2 linked regions of the Homo sapiens genome follow. The protein of the gene in region 2 interacts with the protein of the main gene of each other region in a pairwise test. Each region holds a gene or a part of one and is shown on either strand. Other genes may lie near its edges.

Evidence for each region.
Region 1: the proteins of LCE3A (region 2) and OIT3 interact in binary tests that used the Homo sapiens proteins (3 or more experiments, as listed by UniProt).

Annotation. Positions count from the first base shown.
Region 1 is NC_000010.11:72,924,619-72,928,375, reverse strand, and holds part of OIT3 (oncoprotein-induced transcript 3 protein precursor), read right to left. Parts: coding exon 3,732-3,757; intron 1-3,731.
Region 2 is NC_000001.11:152,622,204-152,625,190, forward strand, and holds LCE3A (late cornified envelope protein 3A), read right to left. Parts: upstream 901-2,987; coding exon 631-900; downstream 1-630. UniProt on the Homo sapiens protein: A structural component of the cornified envelope of the stratum corneum involved in innate cutaneous host defense.

The DNA.
Region 1 (3,757 bases), on a different chromosome or scaffold from region 2:
GCTAGTTCCGAGCACCGAATTCATGTACTGAAAGAAAGTAACAAGGGTATAATGGAATCAAAACTAGTGGCTTATCGAAAACTTGTTCAATGCTTGATTTTGGAATTTAGTATGTTTCTTTTTCCAGTGATTAACTTTCTAGCTATATTTTGCTTAGGCTTGTGTTAAATTATTTTGTATTCTCAGAGCATACGCCAACCAAAATTAAAGGGAAGTGAATCAGATGTGTTCAATATCGGGGAGAACCAACTTGATTTAAATTTAAGCCGAGGACAATGAAAAATCAAAGAAATGAATAATCAAACAATTAATAAATATAAGTAAAATGAGCTATGTTTATTTTAGGTTTGTGGACTAGCCCCAAATTATGATTATTATAAAGACTCATTCAATTATTTACTTGGCAAATATTTAATGACCCTTACCATATGCTAGGAATTGAGGAAGAAGAAAAAGGAAAAAGGATTTTTTAGTTCAAATGGAGAAAGGTGCCAGGAAAGGCTTCATGGAGGAAGTAAACCCTCCATGAATCTCGAAGAACCAGTAAGGATCAGACAGGAAGAAAAGGCGGGGAAGAAGATATCAGGCAGAGGAAACAGCATGCGCAAAGTCAGAAGGGTGTTCAGGAGTGACAGTTTGGGAATTGTCAATAATTCCCTTTGGCAGGAGCAGAAACTCGAGGGGGCTGAGGTCAGAGGGTAATGGCCTATGAGCCATGCCAAGAGCTGGAGGATCTTGCACACATCATTCTTGTACAGCACCACAGACGGGATGATTTGTCTGCTTACAAAGTAGGGCCACACTGCTGTGGTTTTCACATTTTTGCCTATGCTTTTTTCTTCTAGAGCATATATATTTTTTCTCTTCTGTATGTGCTAAGCACTGGCAAAATAAATAGCGCAGCTTCTTAGAACTGTCTAAAATAAAAGTAAATATGGTTGGGCGTGGTGGCTCACGTTTGTAATCCCAGCACTTTGGGAGGCCGAGGCAGGTGGATCACCTGAGGTCAGGAGTTCAAGATCAGCCTGGCCAACACGGCGAAACCCCATCTCTACTAAAAGTACAAAAATCAGTTGGGTGTGGTGGTATATGCCTGTGGTCCCAGCTACTTGGGAGGCTGAGGCACGAGACTTGCTTGAACCTGGGAGGCAGAGGTTGCAGGGGAGCTGAGATTGCGCCACTGCACTCCAGCCTGAGCTACAGAGTGAGACTCTGTCTCAAAAAGGAAATAAAATAAAATAAAATAAAATGGTCCTTCACTAAGAGACTGAATAATGCATATATAAATAAGTTTCACAAGCTCTACTAAGATTGTAGGTTACGTTTTTCTCAGTGAGTTATGATTATATTCTTATTTTTTCAAAAACTAAATATAAGGGGCAGGGGAAAACTTACAGTGAGAAAAATGTTCATTATCTTGATTATTGTGATGGCTTCATGGGTATACACATCAGAACTTGTCAAACTACATGCTTTAAATATGTCTATTTATTGTATGTGAATAGTACTCTACTAAAGTTATTTTTTAAAAAAAGTAAAAAGGAACAAAAATCTATCACTGCAAAAAAAGTAAACCTAGTCCCTGAAAAAAATAAATACAAAATGTTGCTTCTTCTTTTCATGTTAAGGTTTTTTAGAAATCACCTTAGCATGGCAAGAAATCCACATATCTGCAGATGCCCTTTGCTACGGGCCGTCCAGAGTAGCTCAGGATGACAAACTTTCCATATTATGAAAATGAGCTTAAGGAGGCTACAAGAATCTGAGGCTGGAAGCACACCTTCTGAGAAGCAGATTTACTGATCAAAGCTAATAAAGAACCATTAAGAGGTTTTCAGCAGGGATGTGACAAGATCATATTTTGTTTGAATGGATCACCCAGGGGCTCTGTGGAGCTGAGATGTGAAAGGTGAGGTTTTGGAGGCTGTGTTAAGAGGCTGCTTTGCTGTCCAGGTGAAAGATAATGAAGGTGGGAATTAAGACAATAGGAATGGAATAGAGAGGACAGGGTTGGGGCATTGCTATTTGTTAAAAAGCATCTCAGTTGATCCTATGTATATCAAGGGGTGAAATATCACTGCGCAAGAGATTGATAGCAGCAGGTGAAGGCTGGCTGTAGTGAAAAACAAGAGGAGTAAAAGCAGCATAGTAATGTCCAAGAGCCTGCAGGCCACCCAGCAGAGGGCAAGCCCCCGAGGGTGCTGAGCTGCTCGTACTGGACCATTCTCCCTTTGGTTAAGCTGCAGTTCCTGATCCTACCTGAGACTGTGTCCCACCTGACATGGAGAACAAGGAAGAAGCCCATGAGATACTGCTATGAATTTGGGTTTGAGTGTAATTTTCCTGGGAATGTAGGCAATGCCTATGAAAAGGACTAGGTCTCCATCAGTACCTCAGGACACCTACAGATCCCACCAAGGATCCTTAGGAAATACCATGGAACTCTCTTTTGTATAAAACAAGTGCAGGGGCCAAACATGGTGTCTCACACCTATAATCCCAGCACTTTGGGAGGCCAAGGCAGGAGGATCACTTGAGCCCAGGAGTTCAGGACCAGCCTGGGCAACAAAGTGAGACCTCGTCTCTAGAAAAAAAAGAATTAGCTGGGCATGGTCGTGCGCATATGGTCCTGGCTACTTGGGAGGATGAGACAGGAAGATCACTTGAGCCTGAGGATCAAGGTTGCAGTGAGCTGTGTTTGCACCACTGCACTCCAGCCTGGGTGACAGAGCAAGACCCTGCACTGCCCTCCACCCCTGAAAAAAACTAAGCACAAAGCCAAACTGCTATATCTATGTCTTTCTTCTAAAATCTACCAACTATTTCTTCTCTGTCCTTGACTACCAAACTTCTTAAAAGAGGAATTTATGTTTGCTGGCTCCTTGTTCCCTGCACTCTCAGCCACATGAACAGGATCTCACCTCCACCTTCACACATGCTCTGCCATCTCCTAGCAGGTTACTCAATCCTACAGTTTCATCTCTAAATCTGGTGATTCCCTGTCCTTCAGTTCTAGTCCAGACTGTGTTCCTGAGTCTAATTGATAATGCATTTCCACTGAATGCCCACTGAATTTCTCTTCCTAGACATCCTGCAGGTATCTAAAAAATTAAATTATTCAATATGTCATTTTGAATGACCAAATTCAGTATTTTAACCTCAAATCTGCTTTTCTATATACATCTTTTCACCTTGGTTAATGGCATCTAGTCAGTCACCTGGGTTAGACCACTTGGAGCCTTTTTTTTTTTTTTTTTTTTGAGATTTTAGGAGTTTCATTCTTGTCACCCAGGCTGGAGGGCAATGGTGCGATCTTGGCTCACTGCAACCTCCACCTCCCGGGTTCAAGCGATTCTCCTGCCTCAGCCTCTTGAGTAGCTGGGATTACAGGTGCCTGCCACCACACCCAGCTAATTTTTGTATTTTGAGTAGAGACAGGGTTTCACCATGTTGGCCAGGCTGGTCTCGAACTCCTGACCTCAGGTGATCCACCCGCCTTGGCTCCCAAAGTGCTGGGATTACAGGTGTGAACCACTGCACCTGGCCTAGGAGCCACTTTTGACTCTCCTCTCCCTCACTAGTTTTACCTCCAAAATGTCAATAAGTGGTTCCTGAACTAATAAATTGCTGACAGTGGTACCATGCAGTTTTAGTAAATGACTGGGTGTGCTGTGAACTTAGAGGCCGGATGTGAACTAGGGGTGATGAGACCATTCTTGCAGCAGCATTACCCATCCCGGATGAGGTAGTATTTCAG
Region 2 (2,987 bases):
TGCCACAGCTCTGGGGGCTGCTGTGGTCCTGGGTCATGAAGACTACAGAGTATCAGAGTTGGAGGAACCAGAGGACCAAGGACCTGCTCCCATCTGGAGCTTCTCTTCTTCTCTGCCATCTAGGGCTGAGCTACCAAAGTGTTTTCGGAAGGATCTGAACGGGCCCAGTAAGCTCATTCCCTTTGTTTTCCAGAGCTCTGTGTTTATTTCCAACTCATGCTTCTGTCCTTGACCTTGTGAAAGACTGCTCACCTCATTCCCACACTAATATACAACCCCCCTAAAAGGGTTTTGTGAGTTGAGGGGTGTATGACCCACTTGTGTCTGTTCCTAAGATAGGCCTATGTACCCAATGTGGGGCAGCCCCTGTAAGGCAAAGACGGGAACGCACTGGACAGAGCTTGCAACGAGAAAGCACAGCTTTATTCTTCACAGCACAGGGATATTAAAGAAGGAGGGAAAACACTAAGACCAGCAGGATAAATCCCCTGGGGGAGTACTTGAAACTCATCAAGGAACATCTCAGTAGGAAAGAGGAGACAGGAGCAAAGAAGCACCAGGCTAGGGCTGGTTCCAGTCATTTTGGCACTTTCTTTTCTCAAATATTTTTACTTAATCTCGTGGCTCAGGTCAGCAGCAGCCCGCAGAACTGTGGCCACAGCTGGAGCTCCCGCCTTGCTGACCACTTCCCCTGTCACAGGAGTTGGAGCTCTGGCAACGGCAACGGTGAGACCTGCGGCATCTGTGGTGACTCAGGCAGCAGCTGCGCTCGGAGCTGGGCCCACAGCCCCCAGAGCTTGGGGCACAGCTGGAGGAAGCTGGAGGCAGACACTGTGCTGGGCTCTTTGCAGGGCACTTGGGCGGAGGCTGGCACTGCTGCTGGTTCTGCTGGCAGGACATCTAGGCAGGAGGTCAGGGAGCCTGGGCAAAATAAAAGCAAAGCAAAATACGTGTCAATGCAGGTTTCAGGCCAGGGCCTCCTCATGCTTTGGTTTAATTGTGGATCCCTTCCCCTAAACTCAGTCTGCCCTCCAGCTAAGACCTGGGGAAGGGGAATGCAAACGGATCTGAAGTTAAACCGGCCTGATACTGCCCCTTCCTCCGGCCCTCTCCCCTGCCTGGGAGGCAGCTGACACTCCTGGGTGGGCCTCTGGGGCTCCTGCGCACGCCCTGCGGGGCCTGTCACACCTCCGGACCCGATGCGAACAGCTCCCCCTGCAGGCGTCCCGTGAACACAACGCCCATGACCCTCCAGGGTGGCGTCTCTCTGGACGCCTGTGAGCGCAGGGTGTGAGGAGGCAACGCATCTCTGCGCACATGAGGAAAAGGGGGTTCAGAGGTCGCAGCATCGCGGAGCCCCTGAAGTGGCTCGCAGACTTGTCTGTCTTCCTCACTATCCCGCCCATCTCCCATCCCAGTCCCAGCCGGCCACCCACCACAGCCTCTCTGCCGCCTCCACCGTGTCTGCCTCCTCCCCTCTCCTTGTTGAAGCACAGACGTGTTTGCGCAGCCCTTTCAGCCCAGGTCCTCTCGCCAGCTGGACGCTCACCTGGTTTGGTGGAGGCAGGAGAAGGTTCTTCCTGAGGTGATTGTGGACTGAGGAACCCAGGGCCTCAGCCCTTTTATCCTGGGTATTATGATGCACAGCCCAACTATGTGTCCTCCTTTGCTCCCCAAAGGGAGGGGAAGCACCACACACTCCCAAGGACCAGGCTTTCAGCATATTCTTAAGGCGCATATTTTGAGGAATGACAAAAGGGAAGCAGGAAATCTCGATGACGGTCCAATTATCCACCGTTCAGGCCCTCTGGCTGCTGTTCCACTTTTTTTTCTTCATTCAGCTCACATGCTCTGAAGCCAGGGTACGTCCTTTGTGGGGCCTGGTAATATGGGGACAAACAGAACACATTTCTCCCCTTGACTAGCTCACAGCTTTTCAGAAGGCCAGATGGACAACTGAGCAATTAAATCACATCCTATGTGCTAAGCGACGCAGCACAAGTGTGCACAAACATGGCAGGCTGGGGTCACTGCCTTTGGGTGTCAGTCCCCATTGCTTTGTGGATTCCTTTACATAGGTGATGGAATCAGCCCCTGTGTCCTGAGATGTTGGCTGCACTGAGCTCACTGGACCTGGGTTGAGTAAGGGGTGGAAGAATGGAGCTGGGGCCATGGCTTGAGAGGTAGTGTCTTCAGGGAATATCATGGCATCTTAAAGGTGGCATTGGGCACTGTGGGGGCAGAGGGGTAGAGTGGAGGGAGGTGCAGATGGTATAAAAATGTGACCTCCATCTGTGGGATCAACAGAAATCACACTTAATGGGAAAAAAGGGGCATCCGTTTTTGGCTGTCTGTGAAATGTGCAAGGCTGAATTTAATCCTATATATTATGTTAGTAATTCATTAAAATTTCTTTGAATTTGTTGATAATGATGAGGTTGATGGGGTTGTATGCATTTCACTTAATGAATACCTGTGATAATGCTTGAAGTTTGTATATGATGAATTCATAAAAATGGAATATTATTTACTATTTGGTTTTAGTTATATCAGTGATAAATTTATCAGTGAATTCATCTCTAATAATACAATACAATATGCCATAGCCTCTAAATAAAAACCACTGTAATGAATTTTAAAATAATCTTTATTATACTATATATTCTTCCAAGGAAAATAATCACAATTGAGACAATATTAAGTTTCTAATAATCATGAATTTAAATTATATTGTAATTTTAAGCAAAATGTTATTTTGATCAGAGTATATGAAAGCCTGAAGATGCTTGTTCTTTGGTACAAAATACACTGCTAGAGGATATTAGTTCCTTCTTCCCCTTTGCCTATCACTCCACTTTGAACAAACTGCAATACCATGCATTCTTTTAAGAGTTCTATGAGGTCAGGAGTTCAAGACCAGCCTGTTCAACACGGCAAAACCCCGTCTCTACTAAAAATACAAAAATTAGCTGGGTGTGGTGGTGGGC